Linked DNA regions of Homo sapiens. The protein of the gene in region 3 purifies or fractionates together with the protein of the main gene of each other region. This does not show direct contact. Each region holds a gene or a part of one and is shown on either strand. Other genes may lie near its edges.

What was found.
Region 1: the proteins of HERC5 (region 3) and UBE2Z purify together in Homo sapiens (affinity purification with mass spectrometry, with the first as the bait; one study listed by BioGRID). This does not show direct contact.
Region 2: the proteins of HERC5 (region 3) and FBXW9 purify together in Homo sapiens (affinity purification with mass spectrometry, with the first as the bait; one study listed by BioGRID). This does not show direct contact.
Region 4: the proteins of HERC5 (region 3) and UBE2J2 purify together in Homo sapiens (affinity purification with mass spectrometry, with the first as the bait; one study listed by BioGRID). This does not show direct contact.

What each region holds. Positions count from the first base shown.
Region 1 is NC_000017.11:48,918,407-48,921,906, reverse strand, and holds part of UBE2Z (ubiquitin-conjugating enzyme E2 Z), read right to left. Parts: intron 748-3,500; coding exon 635-747; intron 1-634. UniProt on the Homo sapiens protein: Catalyzes the covalent attachment of ubiquitin to other proteins. Specific substrate for UBA6, not charged with ubiquitin by UBE1. May be involved in apoptosis regulation.
Region 2 is NC_000019.10:12,693,832-12,697,939, forward strand, and holds the start of FBXW9 (F-box/WD repeat-containing protein 9), read right to left. Parts: upstream 2,801-4,108; 5' UTR 2,751-2,800; coding exon 2,342-2,750; intron 1,108-2,341; coding exon 968-1,107; intron 892-967; coding exon 763-891; intron 1-762. UniProt on the Homo sapiens protein: Substrate-recognition component of the SCF (SKP1-CUL1-F-box protein)-type E3 ubiquitin ligase complex.
Region 3 is NC_000004.12:88,504,391-88,506,663, forward strand, and holds the end of HERC5 (E3 ISG15--protein ligase HERC5), read left to right. Parts: coding exon 1-25; intron 26-104; coding exon 105-207; intron 208-1,282; coding exon 1,283-1,488; 3' UTR 1,489-1,773; downstream 1,774-2,273.
Region 4 is NC_000001.11:1,256,855-1,260,354, reverse strand, and holds part of UBE2J2 (ubiquitin-conjugating enzyme E2 J2), read left to right. Parts: intron 1-3,044; coding exon 3,045-3,147; intron 3,148-3,224; coding exon 3,225-3,363; intron 3,364-3,500. UniProt on the Homo sapiens protein: Catalyzes the covalent attachment of ubiquitin to other proteins. Seems to function in the selective degradation of misfolded membrane proteins from the endoplasmic reticulum (ERAD).

The DNA of each region.
Region 1 (3,500 bases), on a different chromosome or scaffold from region 3:
GCAGGAGCGTGCCATCACACCTGGCTAATTTTAAAATTTCTGTAGAGATGGGGTCTCCCTGTGTTGCCCAGGCTGGTCTCGAACTCTTGGGCTCAAGTGATCCTCCCGCCTCAGCCTCCCAAAGTACTAGGATTACAGGCGTGAGCCACCACCAAGCCAATACTCACCATTTGAATCCCAACTTCAACTCATGACTTGCTCCACCTCCATTGCTTTTCATCAGCCATCCCCAATCCCAAACCTTACTCAAAATTCTCCTAGAAGTTTATTTATTTAACCCTGACGTTGCTCATCCAGTTTTGGCACTTAAAAATAACTTCAGCACTAAGAAATGAGTCTTATTATGAAGTACTCTACACATTTGGCTGGAAAAAAGTACGTCCAAGCCTTCATCAAACTGGAAGCTCCCTGAGCGTGTGGACTGCCTCTCCCAAAGGCATGGCATTCTCCAACAACAGAGTAGCTCTCTGAACTTCCTCTTGGGTAACCCTCAGCCACTTGTTCTTTAAAAGCAGGAACCACATCTTTCCTTCTTCTCTATCTCCCTCTGGTACCCAACACTGTACTCTGCCCCAAAGATGCCAACTACCCAAATGCCCGAAAGGAATACCAAGCAAGCCCGCTTGACACATACCGTAGGGGTTCAGGACAGGGACACTTTCCTTCCATCATGTCACAGACTGCAACTCTGATGGTCTCGTGCCGGATACATTCATTATAGTTTTTGCTGTCTCCTGGATGTCTCTCCTATAATGTAACAGATGCCAGAGTATTCCAAAAATTAAGCAAAAAGAAAACCAATGGGAAGGGACTTCAAGATTAGTATGGGGTATGTCAGCCAGTCACACAAACTAAAAAGATACCTTTCCCACTGTATGGCAGATCCATGAAGAGCAACCACACCTTTATTTTTGACACCATTCACCTCCACCACCCTCCAAATATACCAACAGGTTACAGGTCATTTGGCCTATCACCAGCAAACTAGATCCATCATATTTTCCTGAATGTGAAGTGAAAGGTCTATCAAGTAAAGATTATGTGGGAAATAACCAAACATAAGAATGATGGTAGGGTTGCTAAGCCTGGTGGCATAAACTAATAGTCCCAGCTACTCAGGAAGCCAAGGTGTGAGGATCACTTGAGCCCAAGAGTTTGGGTTCAGCCTAGACAACAAAGTAAGTTCCTGTTTTTTCAGTTTTTCTTTTTGGAGACAGGGTCTTTGCTGTTGCCCAGGCTGGAGTGCAGCGGCACCATCACAGCTAACTGCAGCCTTGACTTCCTGGGCTCCAGCAATCCTCAAACTCCTGGGCTCTAGCGATCCTCCCACCTCAGCCTCCTGAGTAGCTGGGACTAAAGACATTCGTCACCATGGTGGGCCCCGAGTTTTTATTTTTTATTATTTATTTGTTTTTTTGAGTTTTGCTCGTCACCCAGGCTGGAGTGCAATGGCACGATCTCAGCTCACTGCAACCTCCGCCTCCTGGGTTCAAGCGATTCTCCTGTCTCAAGCCTTCCAAGTAGCTGGGATTACAGGCGCCTGTCACCACGCCCAGCTAGTTTTTGTATTTTTTAGTAGAGACAGTGTTTCACCACGTTGGCCAGGCTGGTCCTGAACGCCTGACCTCAGGTAATCCACCTGCCTCAGCCTTCCAAAGCGCTGGGATTACAGGCATGAGCCACCGCACCCGGCTTGTCTTTTATTTAAAAAATTTTTAAGAGGCAGGCTCTTGCTTTGTCATCCAGGCTGGAGAGTGGTGGCATGATCAGAGGTTACTGCTGCCTCGAATTCCTGGGCTCAAGCGATGCTCCTCTCCTCAGCTTCCCAAGTAGCTGGGACTCAAGGCACATGTCACAATGCCCAGCTATTTTTTTAAAAAAGTTTTTCGGTAGAGACAAGGTCTCACTACGTTGCCCAGGCTGGGAAACACTTGTCTCTTTAGGGGGAGAAAAAAAAAAGACAGAAAGAATGATGGTGGGACAAAAAGGTATAAATGAAGTGAAGAGTCTCAGTGTAGAAAACCTTCAGGCATCAACAAGTAAAGGATGCTTCCTGGTTAACCCCTTTACCTGTTATATGTCTCTAGGGTCCCACCATCATTGAACCAATTATTATAAATCAGAAGTAGGGCTGGGCCCGATGGCTCATGCCTGTACTCCCGACACTTTGGGAAGCCGATGCAGGCGGATCGCTTGAGTTCAGGAGTTCAGGATCAGCATTGGCAACATGGTGAGATCCCGTCTCTATAAAAAATACAAAAATTAGCTGGGCATTGGTGGTGTGCACCTGTCGTCCCAGCTACTCAGAAGGCTGAGGTGAGAGGATGGCTAAAGCCCAGGAGTTCGAGGCTTCAGTGAGCTATGACTGTGCCACTGTACTCCAGCCTGGGTGACAAAGCAAGACTTTGTCTCAAAGAAATAGTACAATTAGAAATAAATCTATCAGAAGCTTCGAAAGATAAACTTCAACTTTGGTCTAGAAAGCCAATATAAACAGGGTCTCACTATGGTGTGAATAGAAGGGGAGTATGGCCTCTACTCCTTTAATTTTTCCTGTGCTCTTCTCCTCTTACCACCAACCCCAGTCAATTAGAGCCCTGGCCTCTGATAAAAATAGCTGATGGGCCAGGCGCGGTAGCTCACACCTGTAATCCCAGCACTTTGGGAGGCCGAGGCAGGTGGATCATAAGGTCAGGAGGTGGAGACCAGCCTGGCCAAAACAGTGAAACCCCGTCTCTACTAAAAATACAAAAATCAGCTGGGTGTGGTGGTGTGTGCCTGTAAATAAATAAAAAATAAATAAATAAATAAAATAAAAACAACTGCAAGTCATTCTGGAAGTAAAAAATAAAAAACACAAGGCTGGGCATGGTGGCTCACACCTGTAATCCCAGCACTTTGGGAGGCGGACGTGGGCAGACTGCTTGAGGCCATATGTTCAAGACAAGCCTGGCCAACAGGGCGAAACCCCATCTCTACTACAAATACAAAAATTAGCCAGGCGTCATGGTGTGTGCCTGTAATCCCAGCTACTTGGGAGGCTGAGGTACTAGAATCGCTTGAACCTGGGAGGCAGAGGTTGCAGTGAGCTGAGATCACACCACTGCACTCCAGCCTGGGTGACAGAGTGAGAGTCTGCCTCCAAAAAAAAAAAAAAAAAGACAAGACCTAAAAATCAGCTCCTGCTAATGAGGTCTATTTCAATTAGACTCTCCTCCTGAAATGAATGTTTGGAGAAAGGATGGGTTAGGAAATAATTTTTGTTAACTTTTGAGGCCAGACTCTGTGGCTCACACCTGTGATCCTACCACTTTGTGAGGCCGAGGCAGGCTGATCACCTAAGGTCAGGAGTTCAAGACCAGCTGGCCAACATGGTGAAACGCCACCTCTACTAAAAATACAAAAATTAGCCAGGCGTGGTGGTGTGCGCCTGTAGTCCCAGCTACTCAGGAGGCTGAGGCAGGAGAATTGCTTGACCCTGGGAGGTGGAGGCTGCAGTG
Region 2 (4,108 bases), on a different chromosome or scaffold from region 3:
AGTGGGCCGAGATCATGCCATTGCATTCCAGCCTGGGTGACAGAGGGAGACTCTGTCTCAATAAAAATATAAATAAATAAAGGCCAGGTGACTCATGCCTGTAATCCCAGCACTTTGGGAGGCTGAGGCGGGCAGACCACGAGGTCTGGAGATCGAGACCATCCTGACCAACATGGTGAAACCCTGTCTCTACCAAAAATAAAAAAATTAGCTGGGCATGGTGGTCCTAGCTACTCAGGAGGCTGAGGCAGGAGAATTGCTTAAACCTGGGAGGCAGAGGTTGCAGTGAGCCGAGATTGCATCACTACACTCCAGCCTAGCAACAGAGTGAGACTCCATCTCAAAAAAAAAAAAAAAAAATTAGACAGGTGTGGTGGCATGCACCTGTAGTCCCAGCTACTCAGGAGGCTGAGGCAGGAGAACCGCTTGAACCCGGGAAGCAGAGGTTGCAGTGAGCTGAGATCATGCCACACTCCAGCCTGGGTGACAGAACGAGACTCCGTCTCAAAAAAAAAAAAAAAAAAAGCCTGAGCTTAATGCATGTCCACATTAATGCATAATGCATCTCCTTCATCCTCATCCTAATCACCCACTGGACAGAAGTAGAAACTGAGGCACAGAGAAGTCACACATCTCACTCAAAGTCACACCAAGGTTAGAAAAGTCAGATTCAAATCTATGCGGTCCTGTACCAAAACCTGGGGCCTTAACCAAGATGCCCTACTCAGGCCTCATACCTCCTATCCCCACCTGACTCCTCACCTCATGGGTACTATTTCGCTTAGTGCCTAAGGTCTTGATCAGAACCTGGTTGGACTCCGTCCCCAGCTGCCGCAGGTCCCACAAGTTGACGTTGCGATCTCGGGAGCCCGACAGACAGAGTGACCCACCCTGGAAAGGGAGCAAGGTGATGTTGTCAGGGCCACCCTGGCCCACCCTGCCTGGCCCCCCACAGACCCCGTCTCACCTGGAGCAGCAGCACTGAGTCAACGGAAGCCACGTGGCCTTCGGCCAGGCAGAAGTATTCGACCCAGCGCCCATCCTCTGCCCAGCGGGACAGGTGCTGCTCCAGCGCAATGCAGGCTGCCGGCCAGTCAAAGTTCTTCTCTGTGGGTTACCACGAGTAGGGTGCCCAGTGGGCAGGGACCCTAGCACCCATGCCAGCTGGCCAAGCCCAACCCTGGCTTCCAGGGAGCCCACACTACACCAGACTTGGACAGAACCCCATGGAGATCCCTACTCCCACCCCAAGCCGACCCAGGCTGTGGTCTTGGGACCACCTGCCTGCCCATTTCCCAGGCAGGTCTAGGACTACTCACTCCAATTTCCAGAAATTGGGAACTGGGGTCTCAGAACTACCTCTCCAGGCGCCATCCCCCAACCCAAACTCAGGGCAGAGCAGTCTCAGGATGTTGAGGTCTGACCTCAGGCTCAGCATAGAAGCTGGGACCTCATGACTAACCCTTCCTGCCTCAGCCATCTGAACCAGACCAAGGGGGCTGTTTCTCAAACAGTATCTGGAAACCAGGGAGCCTTGTCAAGATGCAGAATGCAAGCCCCAGATGCAGATTCTGTGATATGGACGGGGTCCAAGCATCTATGTTTATTAAGCTGTTTGGGAGAGTCTGACCTGGGGGTTGGATGGCAACACCTTGAGAATCACTGATCCCGGAGTGATCCTGATTCCTCTCTAAGCAGAATCAAAGCTTCCAGGTTAAGGGTATCAAACACCCAAGCTGTAATACATCTTGGCTTAAGGGCCTGAGGATCCAGCTGTATCAGGATCAACAATATCGATTCAAAGGTCCCAAGCTGTCTTCCCTCAGGAACCAATCAACTCAGGGCCAAGAGCCACTGTCTCACCCCTAACTGGGTCAAGGCTCTAGGGCTCAGGAGTTTTGACATCAACAGGTGCTGTCTCAGCTTCTAAGCTGGACTCAGAACCTGAGGATCCTTGGGCTCACTTTGAGCCCCAGCATAAACTCCAGAGCCTAAGACTTCAAGTCCCTGTGTCAATCCCCAATCAGGGGTCAGTGGCTTAGTACCACAAGACCCCAAGACTGAGGATATTTGGATCCTGAGTCGTCCAGGAACCACAGCCCCATGTTAGGGTTTCACAGCCTCAGGACCCCAAGTGCCTGACTGCCTCGTGGTCCACCCAGAGGTCCTCAGGGGCTTCGGCACCACCAGTAACTACCTTAGCCTCCAGCCTGAGCCAGGACAGCCACGAAGCCTGCACCAGAGGCTGCATCCGGAACACCCCATGTACCTCTTCCCCGCCCCAAGCCTGACCTGGGCGGGCGCCCCCGGCCCCCGGTCCCCGGCCCCCGGCCCCGCGCACCTTCCACCACTGGGTAGGGCGCGCGTACGCGGCGTAGCGCGCGTAGCCTCCAGGTGACATGGTCAGACACGAGGTCGCGGAGCGCGTGGCACACCCGCGACAGGACGTGGAGCACGAGGCGGGCGTCCAGGTAGGAGCAGATCTCGAGCAGCAGCTCCGGGGGAAGGCTCAGAAGGCCCGGCTCACTTACGGCCGAAACCCTGGACGCGGCCCGAGGCTCCGAAGCGCTCGGGGACGCGGCGGGTGTGGATAGCTGCGAGGGGCGCGAGAACGCCAGCCCGGATTTTGGCGGACTGAGAACGCGGGCCACGTAGGCCTTGGCCTGCGCGTCTGGGTCTGTCTCTGACTCTGGGTCCGAGTCATCGTCCCAGGTGCGGGAATCATCGCACCGCCCTAGGGGAAGCTCCATTGCGACCGGGTGGGCGCTGCCGGCCTCGCGTCTTGTCTCCTAGGCAGCACGAGGGCACTTCCGGCGCTGTCTGATGACGTTTATGCGCCCACCGGAAGCGACGAAGTCAGACACTGGCTTAATACAGAACATCGCCCCGCTTACAGGGTCTCTTGCAACTGCGTCGGCCTTAGGCTGGAAAATGCAGGTTCCTGTTTCTGCGCTTTTTAAACTAGCCGATACCGAGAGCCAGCCAACTCTAGCTAAAAACGAAACTCAAGCCAGGCGGGGTGGCGCGCGCCTGTAGTTCCAGATACTCAGGAAGGTGAAGGGGTAGGATCCCTTGAGTCCAGGAGTTCGAGACTGCAGTGAGCCATGGTTGTGCCACTGTACTCCAACCTGCGCAACATAGTGAGACCCTGTCTCTTTAAATTAGACATAAAATAAACACTGCTTTAACGAAGGCATCTGTTATATGTGACACTGAGCTTAGAAACCCAAAGGCCCCTTTCCGAGTTCAAGGAGTAGAGATTGGAACTCTTGCCTCTTTTCCCAGAGCCAGAAATATGCAGTTACACTGCAGAGGCATCAGTTAAGTGACTTTTTTTTTTTTTTTTTTTTTTTTTGAGAAAGGAACTGGGGCCTCAGAACTACCTCTCCAGACCCCATTCCCCAACCCAACCTTGGAGGACAGCAGTTCAGTCCTCCAAGCGGAGTGCTTGGCTCATTGCAACCTCCGCTTTCTGGACTCAAGTGATCCTCCACCTCGGCCCCCCAGGTAGCTGGGACTACAGGCGCGCACCACCACACCCGGCTAATTTTTGTATTCTTTTGTAAAGACAGGGTTTCACTACGTTGTCCAGGCTGGTCTGGAACTCCTGAGCTCAAGCCATCCGCCCCCAACTTGGTCTCCCAAAGTACCAGGATTACAGGCGTGAACCATCGCGCCTGGTGGAAAGCTACCTTTTTCTTTTTTCTGAGACGGAGTCTCACTCTGTCACCCAGGCTGGTGTGCAGTGGCGCGATCTCGGCTGGCTGCAACCTCCGCCTCCCGGGTTCAAGCGATTCTCCTGCCTCAGCCTCTAGAGTAGCTGGGAATACAGGCACGCGCCACCACTCCTGGCTAATTTTTGTATTTTTCAGTAGAGACGGGGTCGCACTATGTTGGCCAGGCTGGTCTCAAACTCCTGACCTCGTGATCCGCCCGCCTCAGCCTCCCGAAGTGATGGGATGACAGGCGTGAGCCACTGCGCCCGGCCTAACATCACACTTACTAAAACAGCATGTTGGCCGGGTGCGGTGGCTCAGGCCTGTAATCCCACCACTTCGAGAGGCAAGGTGGGTTAATCACTTGAGGTCAGGAGTTCAAGACCAGCCTG
Region 3 (2,273 bases):
TTATGATTGGAAAACATTTGAAAAGGTACATCATCAAGTCTAAGTTGATTAAATTCAGTTTTCCTTCCTATTTCCTCAATAACTTTTTTTTGTATTTTCTCTAGAATGCACGTTATGAACCAGGATATAACAGTTCACATCCCACCATAGTGATGTTTTGGAAGGCTTTCCACAAATTGACTCTGGAAGAAAAGAAAAAATTCCTTGGTAAGTATTATATCAAGGAATAGATCTGTAATCGTATGTCTTTTTAATGGGATAAAAATTTCCTTTATGATAAGTACCATTTGCAACAGATCATAGTGTCAGAGCTACGCCTAGTCCAACTGAACATCCTCTGTGTCCCAACATCAAAAAACAAATGTTAATATCTATAAGCAATCTTTTCCCCTGTGATTTCATCCCTTCTTATTGCTTTTAAAGTTTTCGTTTCTTCATCCAAGCTAAATATCAAGCCTTCTTTCTGTAGCCCTGTCATCATTCACTTATTCAGCCTTTTTGGGATTAACTAAAATATTTTATTTGGCTAATTTTTACTGTTCCTATATTATTAATACTATATTTGCTATTACTGTACACAGCTATTTTATTTGTATCTTTAGGCTTAATGACTTTCTCATTTTCTATTTCCTTACTTTTGAGAAATATTTATCTTCTATTTTTATTTTTGTGGATAACATGTATGTTAGAAGATATTCAGACTTAATAGAAGCCCAACCTACCTTTCCAGTCTTAACTCCTAGAGGAAATTTTTGTCCCAACCAAATAATCCCATTGTCTGAACACTCCTGAGCTCACCTTGCACCTTCCCACCTCCAGGCCTTTCTGTGAAGTTCCTTCTCCTGCCTTGAACCTCACCTACCTCCTTGTTGCCTTTCTAAACCTTTCCATCCTTAAAGGTCCGGCATAATTCTGAACTCTTGGAAATCCCCTCAGTCATCCCAGCCTGGCTCTCTCTCCTTATTCTCAAGCATAGCATTGACTCAGGAGGCACTTAACTCCATGACACCTCTTCGGGCTGTCTTATACCTTACAGCTTTTCTCTTGCTATTATGTGTCTTTTTCTTCACAAGAATCTAATATTCCCAGTCAGACTTTAAGCTGCTTGAGGACAGTGACTATGTGTCAGACATTGTTCGAATACAATCCCCAATGCACTGTCAAATGTAGGACACTGCACATGGGCTCCAGTGAAGTTTTGTGAATAAATAGATTTTTTTCTCTGTAAAGAGATTTTGGTCTCCATGTAAAACAGATTGCCTAATTTTATTCTTCTTTTTAGTATTTCTTACAGGAACTGACAGACTACAAATGAAAGATTTAAATAATATGAAAATAACATTTTGCTGTCCTGAAAGTTGGAATGAAAGAGACCCTATAAGAGCACTGACATGTTTCAGTGTCCTCTTCCTCCCTAAATATTCTACAATGGAAACAGTTGAAGAAGCGCTTCAAGAAGCCATCAACAACAACAGAGGATTTGGCTGACCAGCTTGCTTGTCCAACAGCCTTATTTTGTTGTTGTTATCGTTGTTGTTGTTGTTGTTGTTGTTGTTTCTCTACTTTGTTTTGTTTTAGGCTTTTAGCAGCCTGAAGCCATGGTTTTTCATTTCTGTCTCTAGTGATAAGCAGGAAAGAGGGATGAAGAAGAGGGTTTACTGGCCGGTTAGAACCCGTGACTGTATTCTCTCCCTTGGATACCCCTATGCCTACATCATATTCCTTACCTCTTTTGGGAAATATTTTTCAAAAATAAAATAACCGAAAAATTAACATAAAAGTCTTATTCACTATTCAATGTGTTTACCAGCTCTTTTGGAATTGCTATCATTGCATGTAAGATATATCAATTATAATATAGATTAAGCTGTGTCTCTCACACAATGTTTGCATGACTTGGCCTGAAGGGATACTCTTTACCTTAGAAGTTTTTTTAAAAAACTTGTAATTATCTACCCAATATCTGTTCTCCCCTTCTTTCAGTACAGATTCCCTATATGGTAGGAGTGGCATTGTTCTCAGTCTTAAAATCATACATTTCCCAGCCTCTCTTCAAGGTAGGGACAGGTGGCAGTGGTGACAGTTATTGGGAGAAGCTTCTGAGGAAGCTTTTTTATTTAAATGCTGTTATGCTTTTAATGGAGTTAGGTACAAAATGCATCCAAGCAAAAGAATGTTGTACATACTCATTAACATAGTGATAAATGTAAATTACACTTTGATAATGTAAAATACAGTGTGTTAGGCCCCAAAAAGAAACTACAAAGTTAGCT
Region 4 (3,500 bases), on a different chromosome or scaffold from region 3:
TAGCACCGAGCTAAACATCGTTCCAGCCTCGCTTTGGCTGTTCCCGCTTCCTCTTTTAAGCAAGCCTGTTTCTTTCACTCACTTTCCAGTTTGGCCTTTCCTTATGATCTCTTGTGTCTTCTGGGTGTCATTCCTGGGCTTCGCCTCTCCCTGGTGGATGTGGCCGCACGCCAGGATGGGTGACAGTGGCACTTGCTCATGCCGTCCCTCCACTGTTGACTCCACCCCTGTTCCTGCGTGTCCTCGAATGCCAGCCCTGAGCAGAGTGCAGAGAGGAAGCTGCAGCGTCCCCCTGCTTGGCCATGTGTGTCTTCAGGGGAGGCAGACAGTGAAGCCGTGTTTTCATTTAGGATCTATGGGAGGGAGAGCAGCCCCTAGTGATCAAGAGAGAGACACGAGGGAAACACGTGCGGGAGGCCACACATGCAGGGAGGCCAGGGAAAGTGGAGAGAGACTGGAACCCCCAGGCCGACCCTTTATTGGGTCCAGGGCGTTCTGCACACAGGTTTCCCTTGGGGAGTTTTAACTGGTGGGTTTAATACAAGCGGGCACGAGCCCCGTGGGGCCACGCTGTGACTGTGGGGGACTCCGTGGTGTGGCTGCACAGTCCATGTGGGGCGTGGGGTCCGTGGGGACATGGGGGGTGGTCACCAGGGGACAGTGCGTAGGGCGGGCGTCTGGGTGGATCAGCTCGAGGAAGGGGGATGTGAACTGAAAATTGTTGCGGGTGGCAGCCCCGCTTCTGGTCAGAGAAAGTCCAGCCTAGATTCAGAGTGGATGCCGAGGCGGCCTAAGATGATGAGCGTTCCTGCAAGATGTAAAGCACTCGAGGGGCAGGGGTGCTGCATCCTACACAGGGTGGGTCTAGAGCAGAAGAGCCCGTGGCGATTTGGGGACTCGCATTGGGGCAGGGCTGTGCACAGGGAGCCCAAGGGAGGACAGAGGCCAGTGCTCCTCAAACCTGATGGCATGCACACGCATACACACGCATGCACGTGTCCTGATGGCACGCACACACATGCCCACGCCCATGCGTCCTGATGGCACGCACGTGCACACGCGTCCTGATGGCATGCACATACACATGCACACACACGTGTCCTGATGGCATGCAGACACGCACATACATGCGTCCTGATGGCATACACACACACATGCACACAAGTGCGTCCTGATGGCATGCACACACTCAGACACGCACACACGCGTCCTGATGGCATGCACACACGTGCGTCCTGATGGCATGCACACACATGCACACACGTGCGTCCTGATGGCATGCACACACACATGCACACACGTGCGTCCTGATGGCATGCACACACTCAGACACGCACACACGCGTCCTGATGGCATGCACACACACGTCAACGCATGCAGGTGTGGCCAGGGAGTCCTGGCTTGTGCACTTGTGGTCCTCTGGTTGGGGTTGGCCCCAAGCTCTGAATTTCCAACCAACTCCAGGTGCAGCCTGGGCAGCCAGCGTGTGGGCCTCGGGCTGGGGCGGGGCTGCCATGAGGCAGCTCATAGAGGGCCTGGGAGCAGGGCCAGGGGAAGCCACACAGGGTGTGCGGCTCTAGATTGATTTGAAGGTGGGGCCAACAGGATTTGCTCATGGAGTGGGTGTGATACCAGGAGGATGGAGTTGCCAAGTTGCCATTTGGTGGAAGTGGCCGGATTTCTGTCCTGGATGGGGGCGTCTGGGCGCTGTGCTGTGGACGGTCAGTGTAGTGGCCTGGAGTGTGCACAGGGCCCGTGGGTGCAGGGTGGGGGAAGTGGCTGAGCAGCCATTGCAGGGCTCCTGATGGGAGGCCGTGAAACTAGGGCGACCCCAGGAGGATGCCAGGACTGAGAGGAGAGCACCCTGTGCTTGGGTGGGCGAAGAGGGGCTGGCTGGAGTGGGAAGAGGGGGTGGGGAGTGGAGGAGCTAGACCAGGGTGGGGCTTTGGAGAGGCGGAGCCAGGAGTGGCCCCTTATAAGGCTATGCCGTTGGGTGGTCAGAAACCAGTGGTATGGCTGGGGGAGGTGGCTCACGCCTATAATCCCAGCACCTTGGGAGGCCGAGGCGGGCGGATCATGAGGTCAGGAGATAGAGACCATCCTGGCTAACACGGTGAAACCCCGTCTCTACTAAAATTAAAAAAAAAATTAGCTGGGTGTGGTGGCGCGCGCCTATAGTCCCAACTACTCAGGAGGCTGAGGCAGAATAATCACTTGAACCTGGGAGGCAGAGGTTGCAGTGAGCCAGGATCGAGCCACTGCACTCCAGCCTGGGCGACAGAGCAAGATTCTGTCTCAAAAAAAAAACAAAACAAAACAAAAAAAAGTGGGAACGTGTGGGTGACCCTGAGGTCGATCTTCAGGTCAGGTTTGGTAGAGCAGGGAGAAAGCCTGGTCAGGTGGATTTGAGAGCTTGGGAGGGGAGGACGTGTGAAGAGCCATGAATGAGGCCCGAATCCAGGGGATCAGGTCAGGGCAGGGGGCATTTGGCAGAACTTGGAGGGGTGTGTGGTGGAGAGTGGTGTGTTTGAGGTGCGTTTTGCTGGCCTTTGGGTGCAGTTGGGTCGGGGAAGCAAACGGTGCTGGAGAGTCGCTGGGTCTGGACCTGAGTCCTGAGAGGGGCGGCCTCAGCTGGGCCTGGAGCTCCTGCTGTGCTGGGGGTGTTGCAAGGAGGCCCTGCATGCCTCTTCCGACCCCTCTGCTCCTGGTGGGGGTGTGTGTGGACACTCCAGGGAGAGGGGTGTGCAGTAGCTGTGGTTGTCTCGAGCTCCCGGGGCAGTGGGGGTCTGGGTCCAGTCGGGTGGTGGGTACAGGTGGGGTGGGGAGGGGCATTGGGTCTGGGTGGTCATGACAGTGGGTGGTAGTGGAGAGCAAGGTCAGTGGGGGACTGAGCCTGGGAGCCGGCTGGGGACGGAGAGTGCAATGAGGACTCGGGAGCCGAGCTGAGGGGGGGGGGGGGGGTGGCGTGGGGGGATGGGGACGAGGTCTCCAGGAGCCCCTGCTGTGGCGGACGACAAGGCCCTTTCTGTTTTGTTTCCATGTAGGTGGCTATTATCATGGAAAACTAATTTTTCCCAGAGAATTTCCTTTCAAACCTCCCAGTATCTATATGATCACTCCCAACGGGAGGTTTAAGTGCAACACCAGGTAAGGTGCCTGGAGGGGCCGCGGAGGCTTTCTGGCTGCGGTGGGGAGTGTGCACTGACGGGGCCCCCGTTTTGCAGGCTGTGTCTTTCTATCACGGATTTCCACCCGGACACGTGGAACCCGGCCTGGTCTGTCTCCACCATCCTGACTGGGCTCCTGAGCTTCATGGTGGAGAAGGGCCCCACCCTGGGCAGTATAGAGACGTCGGACTTCACGGTAAGTTTTAGAGCCTCTCCCTGGTGGGCCGTCAGCCTTGTGTCTGGGGGGCTGTTCTCTGTTCCTGAGTTGCAGCTGCCTTTTTTTTTTTTTTTTTTTTTTTCTTGAGACGGAGTCTCGCTGTGTCTCCAGGCTGG